2 linked regions of the Homo sapiens genome follow. The protein of the gene in region 1 interacts with the protein of each later gene in a biochemical or structural test. Each region holds a gene or a part of one and is shown in the gene's direction. Other genes may lie near its edges.

Evidence for each region.
Region 2: the proteins of BATF3 (region 1) and NFATC2IP form a complex in vitro, tested with the Homo sapiens proteins (one study listed by BioGRID).

Annotation. Positions count from the first base shown.
Region 1 is NC_000001.11:212,684,603-212,701,564, reverse strand, and holds BATF3 (basic leucine zipper transcriptional factor ATF-like 3), read left to right. Parts: upstream 1-1,724; 5' UTR 1,725-1,802; coding exon 1,803-1,892; intron 1,893-4,499; coding exon 4,500-4,604; intron 4,605-9,197; exon of another isoform or gene 9,198-9,301; intron 9,302-13,143; exon of another isoform or gene 13,144-13,438; intron 13,439-13,665; exon of another isoform or gene 13,666-13,695; intron 13,696-14,585; coding exon 14,586-14,774; 3' UTR 14,775-15,148; downstream 15,149-16,962. UniProt on the Homo sapiens protein: AP-1 family transcription factor that controls the differentiation of CD8(+) thymic conventional dendritic cells in the immune system.
Region 2 is NC_000016.10:28,951,643-28,963,440, forward strand, and holds part of NFATC2IP (NFATC2-interacting protein), read left to right. Parts: intron 1-489; coding exon 490-562; intron 563-1,259; exon of another isoform or gene 1,260-2,922; coding exon 2,923-3,040; exon of another isoform or gene 3,041-3,356; intron 3,357-4,335; coding exon 4,336-4,416; intron 4,417-4,508; coding exon 4,509-4,695; intron 4,696-6,940; exon of another isoform or gene 6,941-7,019; intron 7,020-7,074; coding exon 7,075-7,219; intron 7,220-7,348; coding exon 7,349-7,458; intron 7,459-11,798. UniProt on the Homo sapiens protein: In T-helper 2 (Th2) cells, regulates the magnitude of NFAT-driven transcription of a specific subset of cytokine genes, including IL3, IL4, IL5 and IL13, but not IL2.

The DNA of each region.
Region 1 (16,962 bases):
CTGTGCATAAAAAACACTGGGGAATGAAATCACTTCTGAAAATGATAACCCCTTGACCCAGATGTTTTCCTAGCTCGTTAGAGCCCTTTTAGTGCTTCAGGAATGAGAGCTTTCAGCTGACCTAGTGCAATACATATACTGAGCACCTGTTGAGTGTATGTAGCGTGCTATGCTAGGCACCTTGTGTGGGTACCTTGTGGGATGCAAAATAGTCCTGGGGCAACCACCAGTTAAGCTGAGTGATGAAATAACGGAGAGGAAAAGATTAATCCGGGCAGATAACCCAGCGTAGCGCTGGCTCTGCTGCGCAGCCTTGCTGCTGTGGAGTGTGGCGCTGCAACTCTAAAGGGCTGCGTCCACCCTCCGTCTTCCTCCCCGCCTCTCAGTTGGCCGAAGCTTCTGATCACACAGACAAGAATCTCCGCTCGCTTTCCCGCTGGCCTCCAGGCAGCCAAGTTCACTCAAGCTCTCTCAAAGCTTTTGCAAGAGTGGGTCTTAAATCCTGGCGGGGGGCACGTGCACTCATTTAAGACTTAAAAAGGAATCGGAAATGACTGTCCCCATGCCCACTGCTGCCCACAAACCTGAAGACCCAAGCGACCACACTTGGTAGGCACTTCTGCCCTTCTGGTCTGGTTCCCACCCGCCCATCCCGAATCGCGGTTATCTTTCCCGGTGCTCACAGCATGCAGACCACAGCCTGTGGCCGCTAGTGTTTCCTTCGCTAGGACCACGGGTAATTGTCTTGGCTTCGCATCTTTTGACTGGCAGGCAGGTGGACAGGGACTTGCCCTACCTCAACCCGGTCCCCAGCTTGGCACGAGCAGATAAATCTTGAAAAAGAAAAATGATCTGGGCCGTTTAACCGTGGCATGGCGGGTCCAGATCCCCAAACCTGTCACTAGTGACGTCCCACGTGGCAGATTCGCTCTCAGGGAAGCCCGTCACCGTTTTTGTCCGGGACATCCTCCCCATGCCCACCCTCCGCTCCGGGAATTCACCCTCGGGGCCGCCCCGCCTCGTTCCCTCCCACAGCCCGGCGGACCCGAGACGGGAAGGGCAGGCACTCCCTGCAGAGTCCCTGGGGCGCCCGTGGCTCGGGGTGCGCGGTGGGACTCGGTGAAGCCGGCGTCTTCACCCCAGAGCCGCGGCTTCGGGGCCGCTGGAGGAGCGAGAGTGGCGCCCGGATGACTGATCGCCGCGGAGAAAGTCCCCCGGGACTGTGACCCCCGCGCCGGGGGGCGGACGCAGGGCGTGGCTGAGGCGCAGGAAGATGCCGCGATGGGACCGGGAAAAAACACCGACCCCAAAACACCCACTGTGTTTCTCAACCTGAGTTCCCCGGCAGCCGCCGAAGGACCCCAAAGGCTGCATGGCGCCCCCCTGGTCCCCACCCCCCCGGGCGTCGCCTCGCGTGGGTGGGCTTCGCGTTCCCTCCGGGGTTTCAGAGCCACCACGTGACTTCCACGAAGCGCGGGGCGCCGGCGGAAAGCCGCGGCAGGGGTGGGATTTGGGACCCCGAGGTGCGGAGAGAGGGCGGGCAGAGGAGGAAACGAGGCGGGGGTGGGAGAAGGAGGGCGGGGCAGACGTGGGACGGGAAGGACGGCTGCCGGGACTGGCGCGCGGGGACACTGGGCCGACGCGTGGAGTAGCGGGGAGAGCGGGAAGCCTGAGGGGGCGGGGCCGGCGCGAGGCCGTGGGTGCGGCACGAGGATGCCGGCGGCGGGACAGCGCCCGTAGGCAGCCCCACGGGCAGGGCGCGCGGGCGGGGCGGGGCGGGCCGGGCCAGAGGAGCGCCCGGCATGTCGCAAGGGCTCCCGGCCGCCGGCAGCGTCCTGCAGAGGAGCGTCGCGGCGCCCGGGAACCAGCCGCAGCCGCAGCCGCAGCAGCAGGTAGAGGGCGAGAGGCTCAGGGAGGGCCGTGGGGTGCGGGGACCGGCGCGCCGCGGGGGGCGAGGAGGTGGGTGCTGGAGTTCCGTGGTGGTGACTGCGGAGGTGCAGAGGTGGCGGGTGCGGCCGGAGACAAGCAGAGGTAGGGGCGTAGGGATGTTGGGGAATGGGGGCGATCCAGGGACCCTGTCGTGCGCACAGTGTCCGCGGCTCCTGGAATGGCTCCTGAGCCAGCTCCTGCGCCCTCTGGGGGAAGAAGCCCGAGGGCGCCGACGCCTGGCTGGGCCGGGCATGGCCGGTGCTCCCCGGCACGTGGGCTCCGCACTGCCCTGAGGGCCGCCCCATCCTGGCGCAGCCAGCGACTGCCACCCCACCACCCGCGCCTGTAGCCCCTCCAGGATTCCCCCGGGTGGGGGGGGTGCTGCCGCGGGAATGGAGAACGCCGGACTAGTCAGCCTGGGCGGAGGGAACCCACAAAGGGCCGACTCCGCCCCCAGCTGGTGGAAACCCTTTGCCCCTTCCCAGTTCGCTGTCCCCTAGCAACGTTTACAGCGGCGCAGTCAGGAAGGAGACCAGGTTGGCCACAGGGACGGCCGTCTGGAAACTTTGCCTGGGTCTTGGCCACCTGCCTTACGACGAAGACTGGGTCTTTTCATCCTTACTCCCCACCTTCCCAATTCAGCGCCCGGCCCATGTCATCAGGTGTCGCTGGAGTGTCACAGAGATCTGAGTTTGGGCCTGGGCTTTGCCACACACAGGCTGAGCAGCCTTGAGCAATTTGTTTAACCTCTCGGACCGTCCATTTCCCCATCTGTAAAATGAATATAGTAACATCAACCTCTCAGGATTTTTGAGACTGAATCAGATATGGTTAATAACATAATACTATCTCTAACTTTCGCTCACCTCTTTCTGTCTTGATTAAATGTTTCTGCTGGGTTGGCAGGTGTGATCATGGTGATGAGTCCAGTTTAGAGTCAGCTCCCCGAGGGCAGTATGCAGGCTGCTTTCTTGTGCTAGTGACTTTTTGATTACAGAGAGCAAAGAGGCATGAGAAGCACTATGCAGAATACATTTTTTTTTAAAGTAGCAACTTCAACAAAGGCAGGTAACTTCTTGAGGGCATACTGTATGCTGGGAGCTTTAGGACAAAATCTCATTTCATCGCATCCCAATCCTAAGCATTAGGCTGTTAGCACCAAGTCTGCAGAGTTCACTGACCCTTTGTTTAGGGCTTGTATCCCCAGTGTCTAGAACAGTGTCTGGCACATGGTAGGTGCTCAGTTAATACATATTGAAAGAATGAATGAATTATGCTTACAATAAATGAGAAAACTGAAAATTTAGAGAATTTAAACCATTTACACAAGACCATGTTGACACTAAGAGACAAAACTAGGATCTGTGTGATTCTAAAGCTAAAGAGCTGTCTTCTAACCACATGTTCCCCTGTAATGTTCTGGTTTTGTTTATCAAGACTTCTTTGCCTCTCTAGAAGACTGTATTATCATACTTTGTTCCCTTAAGCTTCTATTTGCTATGTATGTTATTTATTCCTCTCCTTTTTATGCCTTTATATTCTTGCATATCTGAAACTTCTTACCTGCAGTAACTTGGGAAGATGTGTGTCTTATGTGGAATACAAGATGAGATCAAATGATAACTGAAAATATCCTTTTTTGTGTTATTAATATTTGCATTCCGTGAATATTAATAACTGAGTAGTTTTCCTTGTTTGTACCTCTTGGCTCTTAAACTCTGTAAGTGTGGTATTTTTCCCGCTTGGTGGTGTCTTCTCATGGGGTTCTAGAAAGCAAATACTGCTCTCCTTTTTCATGTTTTCTATAGCTGATTGAAGTGTTTTTACCATGGTCAGTGCATTTTTCCGCCTGCCTGTTTCATGATCACTATTGAGGGATTTGACTGAATTTGGTTAAATCTTACATATAGCTAACAGCTTTCAAGACACATAAAAAATTTGCTGACTTCTGAAACAAAATGTCAGCCAAGCATTGTTCAAATGAGTACACTGTCAGTGGGGTTTAAGATCATTTGGTGTGTTGGTAGAGTTATGTGGCTGCAATTAGTTGTAAGTGTAATCATGATTTGCATGCAGTATCAAAAGTACCTTTCATGTGTGGTGGTATAAGGACTGGCAAACAGCAAGTTCCAGATAGCAGATCTCTCCACCGCCCCCCACCCCCACCCAGCTTTCCAGTCTCAGATGGACGACATTGACACCACAGCTCTTCCAGGCACACGCCCTGTGGGCTAGAGGTTTATGAACGTTGATTTGGAGACCAACAGACCTGAGTTCCACTTCCCACTCACCCACTTAGTGGCTGTAATACCTGGAGCAAGGTCCTTAACCTCTCTGAGTTTCTTATTCCTCATCTTTTAAACGGCGGTCACACCACACACTTCACACACTCACATGGTGAGTGCTCCTGGGCAAGGGGCTGTTGTGAGCCCATTGGTATAGCAACTAGTGGTGCTGTCTACTGCAAAGCAAATGATGAAGCTCAGTGAACAACGCTGAGTGATGAGACAGGGCAGAAAAGGGTAAGGCGAGGGGCCACGACATCACACCCACCCAGTGTTTTTCCCCAGAGCCCTGAGGATGATGACAGGAAGGTCCGAAGGAGAGAAAAAAACCGAGTTGCTGCTCAGAGAAGTCGGAAGAAGCAGACCCAGAAGGCTGACAAGCTCCATGAGGTGAGACCGTGGTAGGGGCAAGCCACCTTAGAGCCACACAGCCTCTGCCTTGCACGGGAGTGGGGGTGATGACTGTTCTCTTTATCACGATTTCAGCAACACTCATATCTAATTTCTGCCAGGTCCTTCCAGCCCAGTGTTCTCACTGTTTGCTCACGGACGTGTTCATTTCTCCCTCATCCACTGAGTGCTTCTCATGGTCAAGTTTATTTCATTATAAAACAAAACAGAGCCTCTTCTGGACCCTGATTCCCTTTCAAGTTCTTGCTCCATTTCTTTTCTTCCCTCACGTCCTTACTTCCTGTTTTGTTTTGTTTCCCTCCAAAGTAATCCGCTAACATCTTTGCTTCTTAAAAAAGAGTAGTTACACCTGTTGTCTCTGTGTCCCTGGTTCCTGGTTATTCCCCAATCCTCTGTGATTTAATTTCTGCTACCCCCTTTCCACTCAACACACATATATATACACACAAACAAACACACACATTCACACATGTACCCAATGTGTGTGTGTACACACACACACACACACACACACACCCTACAGAAACTGCTCCCATTGCAGCCATCAGTGCCCTGGCACTGCCCTATCCAGGACTCTCTTTCTGGTCTCATCATCCTTTACCTTGTTAGAACATTCGACACTTTGGACCCATCTCTTCTTAAAGCTTTCCCCTCTTTTGCTTCTAAAAGACCACATTTCCTAGTTTTCCTAACCCTCTTCGCCGATTTTTTTCTCTATTTCTTTGTTAGCCTTCGACCCTTTATTGGCTTAAATGTTGGTGGTGACCAGTGTTTCAAACTCTGCCCTTTTTTTTTTTTCTCACCCTGGAAGACTTAATCTATTAATCTGTTCTCCCAGCATCAGCTCCCAACATTGATTACTCCAGGCAGGCCCTCTGTCCTGGACCCTAGACCCCATAGCTTCAGTGTCTGCTGAGCTGTTTCTCCATGGGTCCACTGCAGGCTCCTGTGATGTACCACATCCATAAAAGAGTGTTATTGTCCGTTTACCCTGAGACTTTCTCTTCTCATTGTCTTCAAACTGCAGTTAATGGAGCGAACCATCTTTCTCATCACTCAAATCAGAAGCCTAGGATTTATCCTAAGCCATTCCTTTTCCCTCCGCCCTCATGCATACACCTGCATAATCCTGCAGTTGGGACGTGGAGCTGCTCCATACCAGGAACTGGCCTTGAAAGCATCCAAGGATCTATCTGAGGAATGGGCCACCATTCCATGTTCTTGTCTTTGTCGGGGTTGGTGTGTGTAATTAAAGATTTTAGTTTAGCTCTCTCCTGCTATACTTTCTTGTCTTTTTGAGACGGGATCTTGCTCTGTTGCCCAGGCTGGAGTGTGATGGCATGATCATGGCTCGCTGCAGCCTCCACCTCCCAGGCTCAAGCAATCTTCCCACCTCATCCCCTCAGCCCTTATTTTTGTAGGTTTTTTTTTTTTTTTTTTTTTTTTTTTGAGACAGAGTCTCTGTTTGCCCAGGCTGGAGTGCAGTGGCATGATCTCAGCTCACTGCAACCTCTGCCTCCTGGGTTCTAGCGATTCTCCTGCCTTAGCCTCCCGAGTAGCTGGAACTACAGGCGCCCGCCACTACACCCACCTAATTTTTCGTATTTTTAGTAGAGATGGGGTTTCACCATGTTGGCCAGGCTGGTCTCGAACTCCTCACCTCGTGATTCACCCGCCTCGGCCTCCCAAGTGTTGGGATTACAGGTGTGAGCCACTGCGCCTGGCCATTTTTGTAGTTTTGTAGAGGTGGGGTTTTGCCACGTTGCCCAGAGTAGTTTCAATCTCCTGGACTCAAGCGATCCACCTGCCTTGGCCCTGCAAAGTGTTGGAATTACAGGCATGAGGCATTGTGCCAGGTCTCCTGCCATGCTCGTCTCAGCAAGGCCATTCTGGGGCATTGGCAACATGGAAACTCTGAGGTGTGTTGGGGAGAGGAGAGGAAAAGGGCAATCTTAAAACTCTAACAATGAACAGAGAACAAATTTAGAATGTACATACTCCACAGAGAGGTGACCTTCCGATATAAATTCACAGTGTGGCATAAATCATAAATGTCAGATTCTTTCCTAGAAGTAAGAAGGCTGGGCCCTAGAAAGAGACTGAGGTCTCTAGACTAGTGTCACAGAAGGTGCCTCCTAGCCTTTGTTCTGAAGAATTTCCACAGAAGAACGGCAATGCCCTTTGCCTCCTTTCTTTCTTCCCCCTTGCTCCTGAAGCAATTGTGGTTCTAGTGTCATGTTACCAAAATAGCCCCCAGAGGGGACCTGTGGCTCCCAGTTAGTGCATGGCCCTGTATTCAGACCACATGTGCTGCTGGATGGCCAAGGCATTACTCCTGAAGAAGCTCCTAGTCCCAGCCAGGTACATTAATATTTTTAAAAACTAGTTTTAAAAACATCAGTTGTAAATCTGGACTGAATACGTATCTGGAGGACAATATCTTGGACAAGATCTTTCATGGAGCACAGTCGAGTAGATCCATTTCACAAATACCAAGGCATTGCCATTGGGTCACAAAGAGAGGAGGAAGATCTCATGCCTTGCCTGTCGGTGGGAAGCCTAGAATTTCCCAAGGAAAGGATGTTAATTTCCTACTGCTGCTGAAACAAACTCTCACACATTTGGTGGCTTAAAACAACACAAATTTACTATCTTCCAGCTTTGGCAGTCACACATCAGAAGTGGGTCATATTGGGTCAAAATGAAGATGGCAGCAGGGCTGCCTTCCTTCTGGAGGTTCTGGAGAAGATTCGTTTTCTTGCTTTTCCCAGCTTCCAGAGGCTTCAGTGTTCCTGGGCTTGTAGTCTCCTTGAGCCAGCAATGGCCGGTTGCGTTTTTCTCAGGCTGCGTTACTCTGGTGCTGTTTCCGTTGTCACATCTTCTCTGACTCCCCGACACCCTCTTTCACTTACAAGGACCCTTATGATTGCGTTGGGTCTGCCTGGATAATCCAGGATAGTCTCCCCATCTCACGCTTCTTAATCACATCCGCATAGTCCCTTTTGCTATGTAAGGTGACATAGTCGCAGGTTCAAGAGATTAGAATGTAAACTTCTGTGAGGAGTGAATCGATTATGCTGCCTAGCACAGAAGGTAAATGTAAATACTCACGGAATTTTACTACAATATCAAAAAAGTACCTGTATGAAGCGTTGGCTCTCTCGCACTTTCTGTCACTGCTGCATTTGATAACTGAGTGAACCAGGTGCCTGGGAACTTCAGAGTGGTGCCACCTTTACCCCTATCTGACCTCTCTTGGAACTGTGGGGTGGAGACCTCTTCTGTAGGGTCCCTGGCCTGCTCTCCAACCCAGAGACTGTGTTGCATGACAGTCATGCCAGCTGCCCTTTTCAGAAATGGGGTGGGTTGATCTGAAGCCCAGACACTCCACGGAAGAGCACCCCCTTCTCCTCTCTCTCTGTGGGGCTGAAGGAATGGGTCAGGATTACTCTCCACTGGCAGATCACCTCAGCAAGACCAGCTTTATTGAGAATCACAGGGTCAAAGAGGCCAGGACAGCGGCTCCACCTGTATACAGACCCCAGAGCTGTAGCCCTCACCTTAGCCTCACTAGCTCCACACAAGTGTCGTTGGTCACAAGCGGGTGAGGAAGCAGACGACTGGCTTAGGAAAATGGAAGTATATCCCAAACCTTCTGCAGAACCAAAGGAACATCATCTCTGAACCAAATCATTACTCACCACGTGAGTAATCCCTTCCCTGTTCCTTCCAGGAGGGCATTGTAGCTGTGTGTATCATTGGATGACTAAATCTACTATTGGAGGCAAGGTATCTGGTTTAAAAATGGTGTAAAGAACCCTTTTGTCAAGCTCCAGTGAGTTGAGCACAGAGCGCCTTGCACACTACTGCGGGCCATGACAGAAAGCCCCTTGGGACCCCTGGACCTCCCAGGCCAATCTAGGGTGGGGACACCATGCATAGGAACCTCCTCCTCAAATCTGGAGTGAGGCCAGCTCATTGGGAGACACCAGAGGGCCCAGAAAACAGCCACTGACAGCCACTGCCTGCTGCTCCCTGGAGACTGTAGCGCATCAAAGGGCTTTCTTCATGTGTTCCTCTATCCCACACTGCAGGGATTGCATTCCTGAATATCTCAAAGTAACTCAAGCTCTTTACTTGCATTTCTTGCATATCCTGAGGGGGGATATTTGGAGCAAACTTGTTTAAAGTTTCCACTTTTTGGTCAGGCACAGTGGCTCGTGCCTGTAATCCCAGCACTTTGGGAGGCTGAGGCGGGTGGATCACTTGAGGCCAGGAGTTCAAGACCAGCCTGGCCAACATGGCGAAACCCCATCTCCACTAAAAATACAAAAATTAGCCAGGTGTGGTGGCGTGCGCCTGTAGTTCCAACTACTCGGGAGGCTGAGGCAGGAGAATTGCTTGAACCTGGGAGGTGGAGGTTGCAGTGAGCCGAGATCACGCCACTGCACTCCAGCCTGGGCAACAAGAGTTTCCACTTTTCTCTCCTCACCTCACTCACATACTCTACCTATACTTGAGCCTCTGGTTTTTTTGGGTTTTTTTTGCTCTTTCGTCTTCCTGGGTTTTTAAAAAAATATGGAACACTTTATGAATTTGCATATTATCCTTGCTCAGGGGCCATGTTAATCCCTGTATCATTCCAATTTTAATGTATGTGCTGCTGAAGTGAGTACTTGAGCCTCTGTTGCCTCCAACACCCTGAGAAACTTGCCCCAGCTGCAGCTCTTAGGAGTTTTTCGGCCACCTCCCTCCCCTCCTTGTTCTCCATCTCCAAAGTCCTAGGAGTGTCCGTCAAGGCGAGCCCTCTGTGGAGGGGAGAATGGGGGAAGAGGCTGCACAGGCCAAGCCAGAGAGGCAGGGGCTGGGGTTCCCCTTCACGCAGAGTTTTCTGGGCAGTGGTTGCTGGCAGTTGGACTACGGTGATGAGAAGCAGTTCTTAACGTGTGTCTGTAGACCTCAGAGTCCACTGTGGGCTTTCAAATCATCCCTTCAACCCGCTCACACCTCCCGTGGGGATTTCGACCTGCATTCATCTCTGAACACTAGGCGTGTGCCAAAGTCCACACTGACAAATGAGAACCAAAGTGAACAGTCAGGGTCTCGTCTCATCTCACCCAGGCTGAAAGGTGGCTCAGAAGTGGGTCAGACTGGCTCGACCAGGCACCCCAAAGGTGTAAGACTGAGAAAGAATTTTGAGTCACAAAAGGAAAGCAGCAGTGCCATCCTCAGGAGCCCCAAATGTCACAAACTGACAAATGACTTGGGCAATGTGATTGTGGTATGTGTTGCCATGGTTTTTTCAGATATTGCATGTTCTGAGAGCTTCATGGCAGCACCCATGTGGCTTAGAAACTGATTGTGGCACTCATTTGTACAGCCCTTGCTGGTAACACAATTTTTCTGCTGGGAAGTGCATCAGTGAAGGCTTGGGAGTAGACTTATTCTGAAGTCCTGAGATCTTATGGCCTCTTACTTCTGGTAACCATCATGGGGAAATCTGGACCCAGGCACTGCTAACTAAAAGCAGAATTGTTGATGCTACAAGAGAGTTGCAGTTGACCTTGAAGTTAGGAGTCAGATCCCAGGTCTATGTGACCTTGGAAAAGTCACTGTACCTCTCAGAGCTTCAGTTTTCTAACTTGTGAAATGGGGTCTGTGTGTGGCTATGGCCTCCTGTTAGCCTGTTCCTACTTCTTTCTTTCTCACCTTAGTTGTCATATCTGGTCCCTGGTACCCACTTCTTTACCAGTCCTTGATCCTGTCTTCAGCCTCAGAGGCATCCTGGACCCTGCGTATCCCTAGGCAGCCCGTTGATCCCAGTCACCTGCTCCTAGATGCCCAGAACAGGGTTTCTCAGCCTCAACACTGTTTATGCATGGGGCAGCATAATTCCTTGTTGTTGGGGGCCTGTCTTGTGTGCTGCTGGATGTTGAGCAGCATCCCTGGCCTCTAGCCACATGATGTAGTAGCACCCCCGACCAGCTGCGATAACCCAAACTGTCTCCATACACTGCCAGTGTCCCCTGCAGACTGCCACAATTGCCCTACTTGAGATCCACTGCCTTAGGCAGCTTAATTTCTGAGGCAGAGCTGGGATCCACAGTGATTTCACCACCTCTAATTTTTAGGTGTCTGCTTTGAAACTGTCCCGACAAATACCCAGAGAGGGAGCACAGCAACCTCAAACCCTCCCATGGCAAAGGATTTGGAACTTGGCAGAATTCGAGCTAGAGGGGTCATATTTTTGGAAATAATGAAGGGTTTAATGTTCTTTGCTTGCTTTTTGTTTGCGTTTACTCCAGGAATTTCTTCTGGGTGTGAGGTGGGTTTCATTTCTTCCCCCTTTGCTGCTATTCAGTGTTCTCTGGCCTCTTCTTTCTTCCCTCCCAGCTCCTCTTGTTATTTTCAAAGGGCTCGTCTCACCTAAAGATTTTGACTTCTTCTCTTCTTGTTATTCCCTCAGCTCAATAAAAGTCCCTCAGCGGGTTTATGAGTAATGCTTAAATCCTAGAAGAGAAAGTCCTTATGGAGAAGGCAGATGAGGGGCCCGTGGGGCACCTGTCGGGCGGCTCTGAAGACTCTAAGCATGGGTTGGGGGAGGGCAGTGGACCTCAGGGAAGCCTCAGGCCACAGGGCTGCGCACGGCTTCCAGAGACAAAACTGGGAAGCTCAGAGCGTCTTGCTGCGGAATTCAGTATATGTAGAAAGGCAGCTTGGAATATTCTACCAAAGGAAGAGGGCTTCTTGTCCTTTGGAATCTACTTAAAATGTTAGCACATTGGAACTATTCAAATGTACTCTCCATTTTACTTGAAAGTCAAGGGCATTTCCTGCTGCAGGGTGGAGTGTGTGTGTGTGAGTGTGTATGTGAATGTGAATGTGGGGAGTCTGCATGTGAGTCTGAGTTTTTGTGAGTGTGTGTGACTGTGTGAGGTGTATGTATGTGTGTATGACTGTATGTGTGTGACTGTGAGAGTGTTTGTGTGACTGTGTGTTGATTGTGTATGTGTGTGAGAGTGTCTGTGGCTGGGTATGAGAGTGTGTTTGCAGATGTGTGTGTGACTGTGTGTATCTGTGTGTGTGTCTGTGGTTGTGTATGAGTGTGTGTGTGTGAGAGTGTGTGTGTCGGGCTGTGTATGAGAGTGTGTGAGTGTGTTTGCGGACGTGTGTGAGTGTGTGTATATGTGTATGTGTGTAAGAGTGTGTGAATGTGTATGAGAGTGTGTGAGTGTGTGTTTGCAGACGTGTGTGTGTGCTGCAGCTTTTCTCATCCCTCTGCTGCCTGCATGATTCCCTTGACGCCCTGGCTTCCATCCCATCCTCCCATCCAGACTCTCCCCTTGCCCACGGAGAGCTTATGGCTGGATTTGTAGACAGAATTCTCACTCCAGAACTAGAGCTTGTCAGAGGTCAAAGGAGGGCATGAAGGCTTGGGAGTGGGAGGCAGGGAGGAGGATAGAGGCAGAATGGGGCCAGTGTACTGGTGAAGCCACATGGCCCCAGAACAGCTTGCTGCCCTGGAGAGTGCTCCAGACCACCCTGGGAACCTGCCTGGGGAATGGCTCAGATAGACCCTACAGGCAGCCCCGCCAGACCCCTTGGTTCTTAAAGGGAGGAAGATGCTGAGAGTCCCTTCTGAAAGGAAAGGATGGGGTTAAAGAAGAAACAGAGGATGAGGGCTGAGGAATCACTGAGCATGTAGGTGCTGGTGCTGTGGCGCATCAGGCAGGGGGTAGAGGAGAGGAGTAGCAGAAGTTCCTAGGTCCTTTACATTTCTGATCTTTGGGGGGAGACATTACTTCATATGAGTGAAATTGAATATGATACAAAATAGAATAGAACACATAATAAAAGATGTGGTTCCTGTAGGTGCTGTGGTCAGGGAAGCCTTCCTGGAGGTGGTGGGCTTGAGCTGGACCCATGCAGAAAAGGAGGAAGGCAGTCCAGTTGAGGATAACTGCAAGAGCAAAGGGGCAGGGTTGAGAATTTGCATGTGTCTTTGGGGGCTATAAGATCACATTTCTTTAGTGATACTCCCTTAAAATTACTAGTCAGAGAGAAAGTGTGATGAGTAACGCAATTGGGCCCTGAGCTTGGGAAATGCATGGTGTGCATGGTACAACAAAGCCTTACTATAAACTAGAAATGAACGAAAACATTTCAGCAAGATTTAAATGAGATTGCCAGCCTAGAGAGGGTCTCTATTGGCATGCCGTAGAGCTCTGCCATTGGCTATTTTTTGTAGAACTTATTAATGACTTGGATGAAGAAAAGGAAGACCTGTGTGTTAAGTTAGTGGATGGCTTAAAGCTGTGTGCTGTCACCATTCATGAGACGATGCAATTGAGATTCCAAAAGATTTTGCAATTTTGCTGGTCTGGAAGATGTCCAAATAAGGAATGAAATTCAGTGGAGATGGATGTAAAATCCTACCCTTAAGCCCCATAGCATCCATCATCATCCAAGGACGGACGGAGAAGCAGCACATGCAGATAAAGCTTGCATTTCTCTGCAGGCTCAGAGAGAATCCTCAGCGGCTTGGGCCCAGCACAGGAGAGGTCACTGCCACACATTTGCCCTTGGCATGGTCTCCAGAACCATGCATTGCATCCTGGGAGCAACATTTTCTGAGATATTCTGGTAAATTGGAGTGTGTGTTGGTGAGGGTCCCCAGAATGGCAAAGAAGAGCCTGATGCAAGGAACTCAGAGGACCTGAGATGCTGTATCCTAACATTTCAAGAACTGCGATATTGAAAAAAGCATTGGATCTACTAGATGTGGTTCTATTAAATGGAACCAAACCCAACAGGTACATTTGAAAGTGAGAGTGTTTGGATCAGTACAAAGAAGAGCTTTTTCTTTTTTTTTTTCTTTTCTCTCTTTCTCTTTCTCTCTCCTTCCTTCCTTCCTTCCTTCCTTCCTTCCTTCCTTCCTTCCTTTCTTTCTTTCTTTCTTTCTTTCTTTCTTTTTTTTTCTTTCTCTCTTTCTTCTTCCTCTTTTTGTTTTTTTGAGTTGGGATCTTTCTCTGTTACCCAGGCTGGAGTGCAGTGCTGTAATCATGGCTTATTGCAGCCTCGAAATCCTGGGCTCAAGCAATCCTCCTGGCAGAGCCTCTTGAGTACCTGAGACTATAGGTGTGCATCACCACACCTGGCTAGTTAAAACAAATTTTTTTAGAGATGGGGTCCCACTGTGTTGCCCAGGCTGGTCTCAAACTCCTGGCCTTAAGTGATCCTCCCACCTTGACCTCCCAAAGTGCTGAGATTACAGGCATGAGTCACCATGCCCAACAAAGAGGATTTGTCTAGTAGAGCAGCCCAGAAATGACAGTCTGTCCATTGAGGGCAGGAGTGCCCAGAACAAGTTGGATATGGATGGTTTCTACATTGTGTGGATTGGGCTAAGGGACCTCTCTGATACCCTGCAGTTCTACGCCTCTGTAAACCCTGATGGAGAGGAAACTGAACAGGTGAGTGCTGGAGCAAAGCCAAGGCAAGGGATGTTTTCATTCATTTGTTAGTGCAATCAACAAACATTTGTTATGTTCCAGGTACTGTTCTAGGTGCTGGGGATATAGCTGTGAACCCAATAGAGATCTTCGGAAAGCACATCAGCATTTGGGGGGACTAACTGCACAGGGGCATGGGGAACTTTTTGGAGTGATTGAAATGTTCCGTGTATTGATCAACACAGGTGTATACATTTGTCAAAACTCACTGGATCATACTTAAAATAGATACATTTTATTTTACGTAAGTTATACCTCAATAAATTGTTTCTCCCAGTGGGAGGGGGGAGACACTCATCAAATAGACAAATATCTGAATATCTGAGCAGTGGAGGGGACATGCGTAATGAGACAGCTTTCATGGGCAAGAGGTGAACAGCGCGGCACAGGAGGACGGAGGAAGGGAACGCTGCACCAGAAATGATTTTGCCCATTCTGTCTCCCCCAGGAATATGAGAGCCTGGAGCAAGAAAACACCATGCTGCGGAGAGAGATCGGGAAGCTGACAGAGGAGCTGAAGCACCTGACAGAGGCACTGAAGGAGCACGAGAAGATGTGCCCGCTGCTGCTCTGCCCTATGAACTTTGTGCCAGTGCCTCCCCGGCCGGACCCTGTGGCCGGCTGCTTGCCCCGATGAAGCCGGGGACACTCCTCTGCCCAGCAAGGAGCCTTGGTCATTTTCATACCTGGGAGGAAGGCTTTTCCTTCACAATTGTATACAGGGGGCACCTGTGGCCAGGCCTCCTCCTGGGAGCTCCAGGACCAGCCAGCTGTGTTCCCTGCAGACTGGGCTCAGCCCGACATCCAACAGGCGCCAAACTCACAGAGCCCTTGTGCAGATCCAGCATGGAGGCCACCCTCAGGAGTGACTTCTCATCCACCCTGGCAGCTAGTAGGTTCTGCTGTTATGCAGAGCCATTTCCTCTAGAATTTGGATAATAAAGATGCTTATTGTCTCTCCCTTCTCCAGTTCTGGGAATTTACAGGCACAATACACTTCCTTTTCCTGGAGAGGTCGTCTTCTGTCTTCTCTGGGTGTTCTGTGGCTCATGGGTCTTGCCTCCCTGCCTGGCCACTCTCCCACAGCCACATCCACAGCAGACAGGGGAGGTGGCTTTAGGGGGCTGTGGTGGAGCATAAGCCAATGGGACTTCCTTGCCACTTCTAGGCCTTCAGAAGTCTTTGACCCAGCTGGGTCACAAAGTTGCATGCTGGGTGTGACCCGTGTGTTTGTCATGCTCTGCACAGCCTTCCATCTTGGCCAACTCTCACACTCATGCTGGACTGGCGTGGGAGATTTTCTATTCCAGGTTGGTTTTCTCAACTGCACTGTCCACTCTGAGGCCACCTTCTTGTTCTATAAGTAGGTGTAGGATAGGGGAGAAACTTTGTATTAGTCTGAGTCACAATTGAGTGGAGAAATTTGTCTCCTTATTTAAACAAATATTCGGGTAGATGAGAAGAGGAGCAATTTCTTTTCAAAAAGCCCTGTCTGCCCGACTCTCGTCTTTTGGGAAAAACAGAACCAAGCCAGGAAGAAGCTGGCCCCAGCAAGGAAAACCAATTGGGAAGACACTCCCCATCCTCCAATTCTCTTTTTCCCTGGAAGAGAGGTGGTTCTGGAGGGTGGAGCCATTCCATCATAAAGGGAACAAGAAATGGGAACAGAAAGGAAAGTGCTTGGCTGTAAATGTAGATGGTTAAAGAAGTAAAAAAACAAGAAAGAAATAGAAGGCAGCCCCTCCCAGGGGTGAAGGACTTGCTGACTCTTGGCTACTCCTCTCAACACCCCCTTTCCTAGGGAGAGTTCCCCTTCCTACTGGAGGCCTGCCTGGTCTCTAACACTCACGGGCTGAAGGCTGCAAACTTGCCCTTGTCAGACGTGTTGGAAGGCTGCTGTTAGAGAACAGGACTCATACCTGCTGGGAGTTCAGGGGCAGAAAGCATGATGCAAGGTTTTAGAACAAGAGACATTAAAATCATCCATTCTGACCCCTCCACTTTGCAGAGAAGGGGCTCAGATGCAGCGAGGGGGAGAGACTTGCTCAAGGTCCCCTGTGGGTGAGCAGCAGAACCAGGCTAAGACCTCAGGTGGTCTCCCACCTGATCCTCTATGAATTGAATCAGGCTGATGTAACAAGGAGGTACTCTGGGTGCGGCTCAGGTAGTGTCTAAATGTGGCCTGTCCTTCCATCTGCACGGTTCAGATGAGCACCCTGTCTGTAATGGTAGGCTTAGAGCCAGGATCCCAGGGGTCTCTGCAGTGGTGAGTAGGAACATACAAAGTGTGTGCCTGGCACGTGCAGGAGTTTTACTGCTGCTGACTTTCAACTCCAGGAATTTGTGGCCCTGCAGGAGTCTCAGCCTGATCCTGCAGAACTTCCAAGTTCTCCCGGCTTGTGGACCTGGACTCTGGCTGACCCGACTTCCAAAATCCAGCTGTCCTGACTGTCCGCTGACCTGCTCCGACCCTTGCGGTTGTTGCTGTTCTACTGCCTGCTCCCCTACTCCACTGCTAACTCAGGGTGTCCAGGCCTGCTGGCCCCGTTGGCCTGCTTATCCTTAAGCCCTATTCAGCCTGACCTCAGGTGTGATCCCCTGGCTCCACATCATAATCCTCGTTAGTCCCCTAGCTTCCATTTGCTGTGCGCCCTCAAGGCCTTGCCATCCCCCAGCCCCTCTATTCTGGCCGGGAGGCTGGGGAGGAGAGGGTCCATGGGGGATGAGGCAAAGGACTATGTCCTGGAGGTGACGGTGTATCACTTCCCCACAGTTCAATGGCCAGAACTCGGTCACCTGGCCCCATCCAGCTACAAGGGAGGTCA
Region 2 (11,798 bases), on another chromosome or scaffold:
GCACAGGGAGGCTGAAGAGCTGGGATTCCTGAGATTTTGGAGAGGGACTGGGAGGACCTGGGGCCGTTGGATTTTGAGGTTGGGGTCCATGGCAAATGAAGCCAGGGAGCTGCAGTATTGGGGGTTGGGGTCCATGCGGGTTCAGAGAGGACTGGGCGGCTCCAGAGGCTGGGGTCCCCCGATGGTCGTGTGAGCAATGGGCTGAGAGTCCCTAAGAGTCAGGGGTAGAGGGGCGGCTAGTAACCTAGTTAAAAAGGGCAAGGAAGCATACATTTCAGAGTGTCTTAGGCAGATGGAGGAAAGGGTGAAGGGTACTTCCATTCTGAATCCTGGGGAAGCTGGACTTCTAGGTTGCCAGGAGAGGGCCAAGGTGTCCACGATCTTAGGGAGGATTTGGGAGCTGGGTGTCAGGGAAGAATTACCCCCAATTTTTTCTTTCGGTAGGGGAAGGACTTGGGCCTGACCCCTCTCCCTTCTTTGTCTTTGCAGGTTAAAAGCAGCCTTCGCCTTATCCCAGATGATCTATCCCTCCTGAAACTCTACCCTCCAGGGGATGAGGAAGGTAAGGGAGGGCCTCCAGGGAGAGGCACGCAGCCGCTGGCTTCTCTTAAGAGAATTCCTGGGGTTTATATTCCTGCAGTCAGTTGTCTCCTGAGGCTCAAGGGAAGAGCGTGGGAGAGGGGACTCCTGCATCCCAGCCACAGGAGCTGGATTGTTAACAAGCATAGAATGTATTAATGTATACATTTCTGGTGCCACCTGAAGAGATGCTGATTCTGTAGTCCTGGGCGGGGCAGGAGGCGGTAAGGTGTTGAGAATCTGTGACATCTTGTTACATCTGCAGCAAGTTCTTTGGGAACACTGGAGCCAGCAGGGTGTTCTCTGAATCTTATCAGGGATGCCCTGTCTTTGTCCTCCCCCACTGATGCATTTTTTGCAAACAACTCAAGGGCGGGGAATAGGAATCTAGTCTAATAAGGAAATAATCCAGTGGGCAAATGGAGACCTTGGACCAAGACTCTTGTACCATGAGGGAGTACAGTGGGGTGATTAAAAGCAAACAGGAGCCATCTGGCCTGGGTTTGAATCTCAGTTCTCTCTTTTTTTTTTTTTTTTTTAGACAGAGTTTCGCTTTTGTTGCCCAAGCTGGAGTGCAATGGCACGATCTCGGCTCGCTGCAACCTCCACCTCCTGGGTTCAAGCGATTCTCCTGCCTCAGCCTTCCCAGTAGCTGACTAATTCCCACCACGCCTGGCTAATTTTTTGTATTTTTAATAGAGATGGGGTTTCACCATGTTGGCCTGGCTGGTCTTGAACTCCTGACCTCAGGTGATCCGCCCATCTTAGCTTCCCAAATTGCTGGGATTACAGGCGTGAGCCACTGTGCCCGGCCTCAGCTCTATCTCTTAATAGCTGTGTGATCTTAGGCGAGTTTCTTTTTTCTTGTTTTGAGACAGAGTCTCACTCTGTCACCCAGGGTGGAGTGTAGTGGCGCAATCTTAGCTCACTGCAACCTCCATCTCCCAGGTTGAAGCCATTCTCCTGCCTCAGCCTCCCGAGTAGCAGGGATTACAGGCGCCCGCCACCATGTCTGGCTTTTTTGTATTTTTAGTAGAGATGGGGTTTCATCATGTTGGCCAGGCTGATCTCGAACTCCTGACCTTAGGTGATCTGTCTGCCTTGGTCACCCAAAGTGCTGGGATTACAGGCGTGAGCCACCACGCCCAGCCTGGGCAAGTTTCTTAATTTCTCAGTGCTTCAATTTCCTCATTATCAAAGTGGGGATAATAGTAGACCCCATTTTGGTGCTGATTTTGGTGAGAATTAACGAAAGGGAATATAGAGAGAGCTGCCTCTTGGCTAGATATATGCTTTAGGACAGTACCTAGGACACAGAAGTGCTACGTAAAAGGTACCTCTATCCCTGATACTCAAAACGTGGGCCCAGCCATATATGGCATCCGTTGGAAGCTTGCTAGAAATGCAGGATCGGCTGGGCACAATGGCTCAAAGTGCTGTAATCCCAGCACTTTGGGAGGCTGAGATGGGAGGATTGCTTGAGCCCAGGAGTTCGAGACCAGCCTGCGCAACATGATGAGACCCTGTTTCTACAGAAAAATAAAAAATTAACCAGGCATGGTGATGTGTACTTGTAGTCCTAGCTACTCAGGAGGCTGAGGTGGGAGAAACACCTGAGCCCAGGAAGTCGAGGCTGCAGTGAGCCATGATCATGCCACTGCACTCCAACCTGGGTGACACAGTAGGACCTGGTCTCAAAAAAAAAAAAAGAAAAACGAAATGCAGAATCATAGGCCTCTTGCAGCTGCCATAGTTAGTTAGGACAGGATTTCATGACTTCAGCATTACTGGCATTTTTTGGACTGGAAAATTCTTTGGTGTTGGAAACTGTCCTGTGCATTGTAGAAAGTTTAGCGGCATCCTGACTTCCATCCCTGGGAAGTATTATACCTCAGCCCCCTCGCCCTCCACATTTTGATAACCAATATTGTCTCTAAACATTGCTATATGTCCCCGCAGAGGCAAAATTGTCCCTGGTTCAGAGCCACTGATCTAGGGTTTCTTATCATTTTTTAATTTTCACAGTATTTATTTTTGTGGTTTGTGATGATCTTTTATTGACAGCGGGCAAATAGAAATTTCTATATTATAGAAAATAATACCTGGTTTCCTTTCATGAGAAATTTAAGTTAATTTTAAGTTAATATGAGCTATCTTTATACTAAATAGCAGTCTCATCCCCTGCCCCCTTTCCCAATATTATCATGTGGCCCTGTGTGTGCCAGGGGCTCCGTGGTCTCCTCCTTTCCTAGGACCTTCTTGAAGCCTCTGACTTGTTTCTTCTTGGCCTTCGCTGGCCTCCCTTGGATAACCCCCTTCTACCTTCTCTTCCTCTGCCCCCAGAGGCAGAGCTGGCAGATTCGAGTGGTCTCTACCATGAGGGCTCCCCATCACCAGGCTCTCCCTGGAAGACAAAGCTGAGGACTAAGGATAAAGAAGAGAAGAAAAAGACAGAGTTTCTGTGAGTGAGGCCAGGGCCCTTGGGCCCTGGGAGCAGGAAGTGAGTTGGAGGGGTAAGCGGAGGCAGGCAGGACTCTTGGGTGACTCCTGAAAGGTTAAGAAGAAGGGATAGAAGGACTGTTGAGTTTCATGTGGGGAATGAATCGCTTGGGGAAAAGAGGTGGCTTACCCCGGAGGGTGACAGTGAACCCTTCAGGATCACCCTTGGGAGTGGATTCTGAGACCCTAGTAATGTGAGCTTAAGGTATGGTTCCAATCCAGCTTCCCTGTCCTCTCTGTGCTTCTCTTTCTTCATCTATAAAACCCCGTTTTATAGCCTGGGAAACATAGAGAGACCCTGTCTCTACAAAAAATAAAAAAAAATTAGCCTGGCATGGTGGCGCATGCCTGTGATCCCAGCTGCTCGGGAGGCTGAGATGGGAAAATCGCTTGATCCCAGGAGTTAGAGGCTGCAGTGAGCCATGATCGTGCCACTATACTCCAGCCTGGGTGACAGAGTGAGACCCTGTCTCTAAAAAGCAAACAAACAGACAGACAAAAAATACCCCCAAACCTGGGGATAATAGTGGCATTTGTGTCAATGAATTGCTGAGTCAATCAAGAGTTAACACTTGGCTAGGCACAATGGCTCTTGCCTGTAATCCCAGCACTTTGGGACGCCAAGGGGAGTGAATCACTTGAGCCCAGGAGTTCAAGACCAGCCTGGGCAACACTGGACATATGGTAAGTGCTTGCCGTCTGTCGGATATTATTGGACATTTTCCTGGGAAGTGACAGTCTCAAAAATGAGGCATTTTCTTCCCTAATATTCAGGTCATGTAAATATAAAAATGATGCCTCAGGCTTTCCCTCTCCCCTACCCCTGCCTTCCAGTGAAATGGGGGTTATTGGAAGCTGCTTCCTCTTTATTTTTTAAATGTATTTTTACATTTTTAGAGATAGGGCCTCACTCCATTGCCCAGGCTGGAGTGCAGTGGCGTGATCATAGCTTACTGCAGCCTCAAATTCCTGGGTTCAAGCGACCCTCCCACCTCAGCCTCCTGAGTAGCTGGGACTACAGCTGTGTTCTACTATGCCTGGCTAATTATGTAGAAATAGGGTCTCCCCATCTTGCCCAGCCTGGTCTTGGACTCCTGGGCTCGAGCGATCCTCCTGGCTCAGCCTCCAAAAGTGCTGGGATTACAGGTGTGAGCCATTGCGTCCGACTATGCTTGATTGTCCAAGGATCTGATTTCTAGGATTTGTGGGGCCAGTCTCTCTCCATTGCCTCCGTCCTGCTGTCTCTTGCTTCTACAGGGATCTGGACAACTCTCCTCTGTCCCCACCTTCACCAAGGACCAAAAGCAGAACGCATACTCGGGCACTCAAGAAGTTAAGGTGCCAAGTGCAGGGGCTCTGGCTGGGATGGAAGAGGGCAATCCGGGAGGGTGGCTGACTCCAGTTGACCCAGAGTCCTGTCTGCACTGCAGTGAGGTGAACAAGCGCCTCCAGGATCTCCGTTCCTGTCTGAGCCCCAAGCCACCTCAGGGTCAAGAGCAACAGGGCCAAGAGGATGAAGTGGTCTTGGTGGAAGGGCCCACCCTCCCAGAGACCCCCCGACTCTTCCCACTCAAAATCCGTTGCCGGGCTGACCTGGTCAGATTGCCCCTCAGGATGGTGAGTGCCTGAGGCCCATGGGAGAAGGACCCAGGAGCTGCTTCTGGAGAGATGGTGGTGTCCAGCAGGGGTGTCCTGGCAGAAGGGACTGTCATCCTTTTCCCATCCTGCTCTCTAGAGCTGCCCATCATTCTTTTCAGTCTGTCCTGCCTTCACACTTTTTGTTTCCTCTGTCTGCATTTTCCCAACGCTCCCCTCTCTTTCTGGCAAACTTTCTACCCATTCTTCAAGGCTCCTCATAAGCATCCTGTGTCTTTTTTTTTCCTTCAAAAAGTGGTCTTACTGTGTCCAGGCTGGTTCCGAACTCCTGGGCTCAAGTGATCGTCCCTCATTGACCTCCCAAAGTGCTGGGATTCCAGGTGTGAAGCATCCTGTCTTCTAAGAAGCTTTTTTTGGTAGTCTCTCTTGCCTTCCTCCCTAGGAACCTGGGCTTCCCTCCTGGGCTTGCTCTCACTGCCCTGGACACAGCAGATGTCACTCAGTCACCCTGAACTCCACCAGCTTCCTGGCGAAGCCTGATATTTTTGTAGGGATGACCCTGTTTCAACACCAGGAATGATAACAGACATTACCATTACTGATGCACAGTGCATCAGTCAAGCAACTAAGGCAGAGGCTGCAAACTGGCAGCCCATGGCTTTTCCAACAGTGTGTCTGCTTTCTTTGTAGACTTATTTTATTTTATTTTATTATTTTTTATTATTTTTATTTTTTGAGACGGGGTCTCACTCTGTCGCCTAGGCTGGAGTGCAGTGGCACGATCTCTGCTCACTGAAACCTCCGCCTCCCAGGTTCAGGCGATTCTCCCACCTCAGCCTCCCGAGTAGCTTGGACTACAGGTGCCCGCCACCATGCCCGACTAATTTATGTATTTTTAGTGGAGGCAGGGCTTCACCATATTGGCCAGGCTGGTCTTGAACTCCTGATCTCAAGTGTTCCCCTGTCTCAGCTTCCCAAAGTGTTGGGATTACAGGCATGAGCCACCGTGCCTGGCCTATTTTATTTTTTAAACATAGAGATGGGGGCCAGGCATGGTGGCTCATTCCTGTAATCCCAGCACTTTGGGAGGCCAAGGTGAGAGGATCACTTGAGGCCAGGAGTTCGAGACCAGCCTGGGCAAAATAGTGAGACCTTGTCTCTACTAAAAATAAAAAAATTAACCAGGCATGGTGGCACATACCTGTAGTCCCAGCGACTTGGGAGGCTGATGCAAGAGGATCTTCTGAGTCCAGGAGTTGGGGGCTGCAGTCAGCTGTGATCATGCCACTGCACTGCAGCCTGGGTGAGAGAGCAAGACCTTGTCTCTTAAAAAAAAAAAAAAATGGAGATGGGATCTTGCTTTGTTGCTCAGGCTGATCTTGAACTCCTGACCTCAAGCAAACCTCCCGCCTCGGCCTCTCAAAATGCTGGGATTATAGGTGTGAGCCATCATGCCTGACCAAGTGCTTTAAAAATATACGAGTTTGTTGTCACCTTTGTGATGGGTGATTTCATACAAAGGTCCAGATTTCTGGCCGGGTGCAGTGCCTCACGCCTGTAATCCCAGCACTTTTGGGAGGTGAAGGCAGGCAGATCACCTGAGGTCAGGAGTTCGAGACCAGCCTAGCCAACATGGTGAAACCCCATCTCTACTAAAAATACAAAAATTAGCTGGGCATGGTGCCACTGCCTTCCAGCCTGGATGAAAGAGCGAGACTCTGCCTCAGATCTCACCTGAGATCAGGAGTTCAAGACCAGCCTGGCCAATATGGTGAAGCCCGCCTCTACTAAAAATAGAAAGAAAAAAAAAAGGTCCAGATTTCTGGCTTCTCTTAAAAAATAAGAAGATGTGGCCAGGTGCGGTGGCTCACACCTGTTATCCCTGTAGTTTGGGAGGCCGAGGCAGGTGGATCACCCGAATTCAAGAGTTCAAGACCAGCCTGGTAGGAGAATCACTTGAACCTGGGAGGCGGAGGTTGCAGTGAGCTGAGATTGCGCCACTACACTCCATCCTGGTTAACAAGAGCGAAACTCCGTCTCAAAAAAAAAAAAAAGAAAAATATAGGAAGATGTCATACTGGCCCACGTTCCCACACAGTGCCAATCAGCTGGAGCTGCGTAACAGCCAGCCTGTCTAGGTGGCATGTGAATTCCAGTTTGCTGCAATCCCCACCACCCCTTTCTTTGTTCTAACCCATGGCTGCTATATTTCTTTGTGTTACTCGCCTGTACCCCTTGCTGACACGATTTTATTCTATACCTTGCCAGGTAAATATGATGAAACTCACAGCTGAGGAGCTTAGCAAGTAGCTAAGGCCAGAGCTTGTGTTTGGGTGGTGTGGCTGGGGGCATGGATTTCAAGGCAGGAAGACCTCTTTTGCTTGTTGTCCCCATCCCTAGTCGGAGCCCCTGCAGAGTGTGGTGGACCACATGGCCACCCACCTTGGGGTGTCCCCAAGCAGGATCCTTTTGCTTTTTGGAGAGACAGAGCTATCACCTACTGCCACTCCCAGGACCCTAAAGCTCGGAGTGGCTGACATCATTGGTGAGAGGAAGGCAGGGAGGTGGGGCCTTGAGGCATTTGCCAGGGGAAGGGGATATGGGGAGAGGTTCAGCACGGGCCCTGCTTCCAAGCCCCCACTTAGCCCTGGCTTCCTGATTCTGCCTCCCACAGACTGTGTGGTACTAACAAGTTCTCCAGAGGCCACAGAGACGTCCCAACAGCTCCAGCTCCGGGTGCAGGGAAAGGAGAAACACCAGACACTGGAAGTCTCACTGTCTCGAGTGAGTGGGAGAGATGGCTCTCCACGCCCCTCACCCTGTCCTCTGCTGCCTCTTGTCTCTCTTGTCAGTTAATGGAGGATGGATTCCCCTAATCTTGACTTGCAGGAGACACTGCCCTCCATGTTCTTGGGTTCCCAGCCATCCTAGGTAGTGGGAAAACCCATCGTTCAACTTCCCTCCCCGCTTCTACTGGTACCCTCTGCCCTAGTCTGGGTGCTCCCTCGGTCTCCTGACTCCTTCTGATTAAAACAGAAAGGACCCTTAGACGGTAATCAATAAAACCCATCAAAATAACAATGAAGGCCACACGGCTAAGTGCTAGTCCCCGTGCTGAGGATAATTTCCTCACATTCAGGATCTTATTTAATTTCACAACAATCTGATGTGGGCCACAAAGCACTGTTGTTATCCTCATTTGGCAATAAGAAGATTGAGTTCTAGAGAGGTGGAATAAGCAACTTGGTGCAGTCATTTTTTTTTTTTTTTTTTTTTTGAGATAGAGTCTCGCCCTGTCGCCCAGGCTGAAGTCTGGCATGATCTTGGCTCACTGCAGCCTCTGCCTTCCGAGTTTCAAGTGATTCTCTTTCCTCAGCCTCCCGTGTAGCTGGGATTACAGGTGCACGTGCTGGGCTAATTTTTGCATTTTTAGTAGAGACAGGGTTTCACCATGTTGGCCAGGCTGGTCTCAAACTCCTGACCTCAAGTGAGCCACCCACCTTGGCCTCCCAAAGTGTTGGGATTACAGGTGTGAGCCACCGCGCCTGGCCTGCTGCATTCATTTCTTAAGTCTACTGTTAACGAAATACACAAATTGGGTGGCTTAAAACAATAGAAACCTATTCCTGTACACTTCTGGAGCCTAGAAGTCTGAATTGAAGGTGTTGGCAGGGCCTGGTTCCGTCTGAGAATCTGAGTGGAAACCTTCCTTACCTCTTTCTAGCTTCTGCTGGTGGCCAGAGTTCCTTGGCTTGCAGCTGTGTCACTCCAGTCTCTCCCTCTGTGATCACACGGTGTTCTCCATGTGTCTCTGTCTGTGTTCGTCTCTCTTCTTGGAAAGACATAGGTCATGTTGGGCTAGCCCCACTCTAACCAAGCACAACCTCATCTCAACTTGATTATATCTGCAAAGTCCCTACTTTAAATAAGGTTACATTCACATTTACTAGGGGTTAGGACCACAAAGTGCCTTTTCAGGGGAATACAGTTCAACCCTTAACACACTGTTCTCTAGCCCCCACCAAATTCATGGCCTTCCCATCTGCAAAATATATACATCCCATTCCAATATCCCTACAAGTCTTAACCCATCCCAGCATCAACTCTTAAGCCCAAAATCTCATTTAAATATAATCAACTCAAGAAGTCCCAATCTTATTTTCTAAATCATTAAATCAGTTTTGGATGAGACTTGGTATGGTCCATTCTGGGACAAAATTCCTCTCTCTCTCTCTCTGCGGACCCGTGAAATCTAGAAAATAAGTTATTTGCTTCTAAAATACAGTGATGGGACAGACATAGGATAGACATTCCCATTTCAAAAGTGAGAAATTGGGCCAGGTGCAGTGGCTCACACCTGTAACCCCAGCACCTGTAATCCTAGCTCCCCAGGCGGCTGAGGCAGGAGGATTGCTTGAGCCTGGGAGATCAAGGTTGTAGTGAGCCATGATTGCGCCACCTTTATTGGAAACTTTTATTCCAGTTACCAATAACACATTCCTCATTTCCTCCAGAGACCTCACCAGAAACACCTTTAATATTCATATTTCTAGCAGCCTTCTGTTCATAACAATATATGCATCCTGTTAAGATGATAGGAGATTTCTCTGCACCTCTCCTCTTTGTGAGCCTGCAGGGACATTCCCTTTAATGTCCATATTTCTACCAGCAGTCTCTTCAAGGCAGTCTAGGTTTTTCCTAACATACACCTCAAAATTCTTGCAGCTTTGGCCAGGCACAGTGCCTCACATCTGTAATCCTAACACTTTGAGAGGCCAACATGGACAGATTGCTTGAGCTCAGGAGTTCAAGACCAGCCCGGGCAACATAGTGAAACCCTGCCTCTACAAAAAATACAAAAATTAGCCCAGCATGCTGGCGCAGGCCTATAGTTCCAGCTACCCAGGAGGCTGAGGTGTGAGGATCGCTTGTGCCTAGGAGATTGAGGCTGCAGTGAGCTGAGATTGGGCCACTGCACTCCAGCCTGGGAGACAGCAAGACCCTATCTGAAAAAAAAAAAAAAAAAAAAAAAAAAAAATTATTCCAGCCCTGATCCAATTTCAAAGCCACTGTTACATTTAACCATTTATTCCAGCAGCACCCCACTTTTGTATTTTGGCTGTTGTAACAAAGTACCACAAGTTGGGTGGCTTAAAACAACATAAATTTATTCTCTCATTGTTCTGGAGGGTAGAAGTCTGAAATCAAGGTGTTAGCAGAGCAAGTGTCTCTGAAGATATGGGGGAAGAAAACAAACTCAGGATTTTTTTCTTTTCTTTTGAAAAAAACAAAAAAGAGACAGGGCCAGACGTGGTGGCTCACGCCTGTAATCCCAGCACTTTGGGAGGCTGAGGTGGGCGGATCACGAGGTCAGGAGTTCAAGACCAGTCTGATCAACATGGTGAAACCCTGTCTCTACTAAAAATACAAAAAATTAGCCGGGCATGGTGGCATGCGCCTATAGTCCCAGCTACTCAGGAGGCTGAGGCAGAAGAATCGCTTGAACCTGGGAGGCGGAGGTTGCAGTGAGCCAAGATCAAGCCACTGCACTCCAGCCTGGGCGACAGAGCTAGACTTCGTCTCAAAAAAAAAAAAAAAAAAAAAAAAGACAGGGTCTTGCTCTGTTGCCCAGGCTGGAGTGCAGTGGTGCGATCTTGGCTTACCACAGCCTCAAACTCCTGGGCTCAAGCGATCCTTCTACCTCAGCCTCCTGAGTAGTTGGGACTACAGGTGTGTGCCACTACCCTTGGCTAATTTTTTAATTTTTTTTGTGTAGACGGGGTCTCACTATGTTGCCCAGGCTGGACTCAAACTCCTGGGCTCAACTGATCCTCCCACCTCTGCCTCCCAGAGTGTTGGGATTACAGGCATGAGCCACTGCACCTCGCCCCCTCCTTGGGTTTAATTTGCTAGAGCAGCTTACAGAACTCAGGGAGACACTTACTTTCATTTACTGGTTTATTATAAAGGATGTTACAAAGGATACAGATGAAGAGATGTGTAGGGCACAGCATGGGAAAAGGGCGCAGAGCTTCCATAGCTTCCCTGGGCACCATTCTCCAGGAATCACCACATGTTCAACTATTGGGAAGTTCTCCAAACCCTGTCCTCTGGATTTTTATGGAAGCTTTGTTATATAGGCATGACTGATTAAACCATGGGCTATTGGTGGTGACTCAACCTTCACTCTCTCCCTCCTTCTTGGAGGTTGAGGGGTGGGGAAAAAGTCCCAACTGTCTTATCCTACCTTGGTCTTTCTAGTGACCAGCACCATTCCTGAAGCTCTCTAGGGGCTGCCAGCCACCAGTCAACTCATTAGCATGCAAAAAGATACTTAACTCTTTCCCAGGGATTTTAGGAATTTTATACCAGGAAACATACAAAGACCAAATATATATTTGACAACATCACGCAGTCCCTCAGGGTCTCTTCATGGAATCTGCCCTGTCTCCTCCTGGCTCCTGCTGGCGGCCCACAGTCCTTGGCATTCTTGGCTTGCAGGTGCACTCCATTCTGCCTCTGTCATCACGTGTGTTCTCCCCTCATGTCTGTTTCTGTGTCTGTTCCATAAGCATACCAGTCCCAGGCTGGGTGCGGGGGCTCACGCCTGTCATCCCAGCACTTTGGGAGGCCAAAGTGGGTGGCTTATCTGAACTCAGGAAGTTTGAGACCAGCTTGGGCAACAGAGAAACTGTCTCTACCAAAAATACAAAAACTTAGCTGGGTGTGGTGGCCTGTGCCTGTAGTTGCAGCTACTCAGGAGGCTGAGGCAGGAGAATTGCTTGAACCCAGGAGGCAGAGGTTGCAGTGAGTTGTCTACCAGTCCCACGGCATTAGCACTCGTCCCAATCCAGTACAACCTCAACTTGATTGCATCTGCAAAGGCCCCGTCTCCAAATCACATCACATTCACACTTAACAGGGGTTAAGACCACAAGGTGTCTTCTCTGGGGAACATAACCTGTAACATTTTTCTAAGGTCACATATCTAATAGGTGGGAGAGCCTGGCCTCCAGCTCGACTCATCCTCACTCTAGAATCTGGGCTCTCTTAGTCATTGGTACACACTTCTGTTTCATAGGGAAGGAGGCTGAGGCTAGGAGGACTTGCCTGACTTAGAGCCT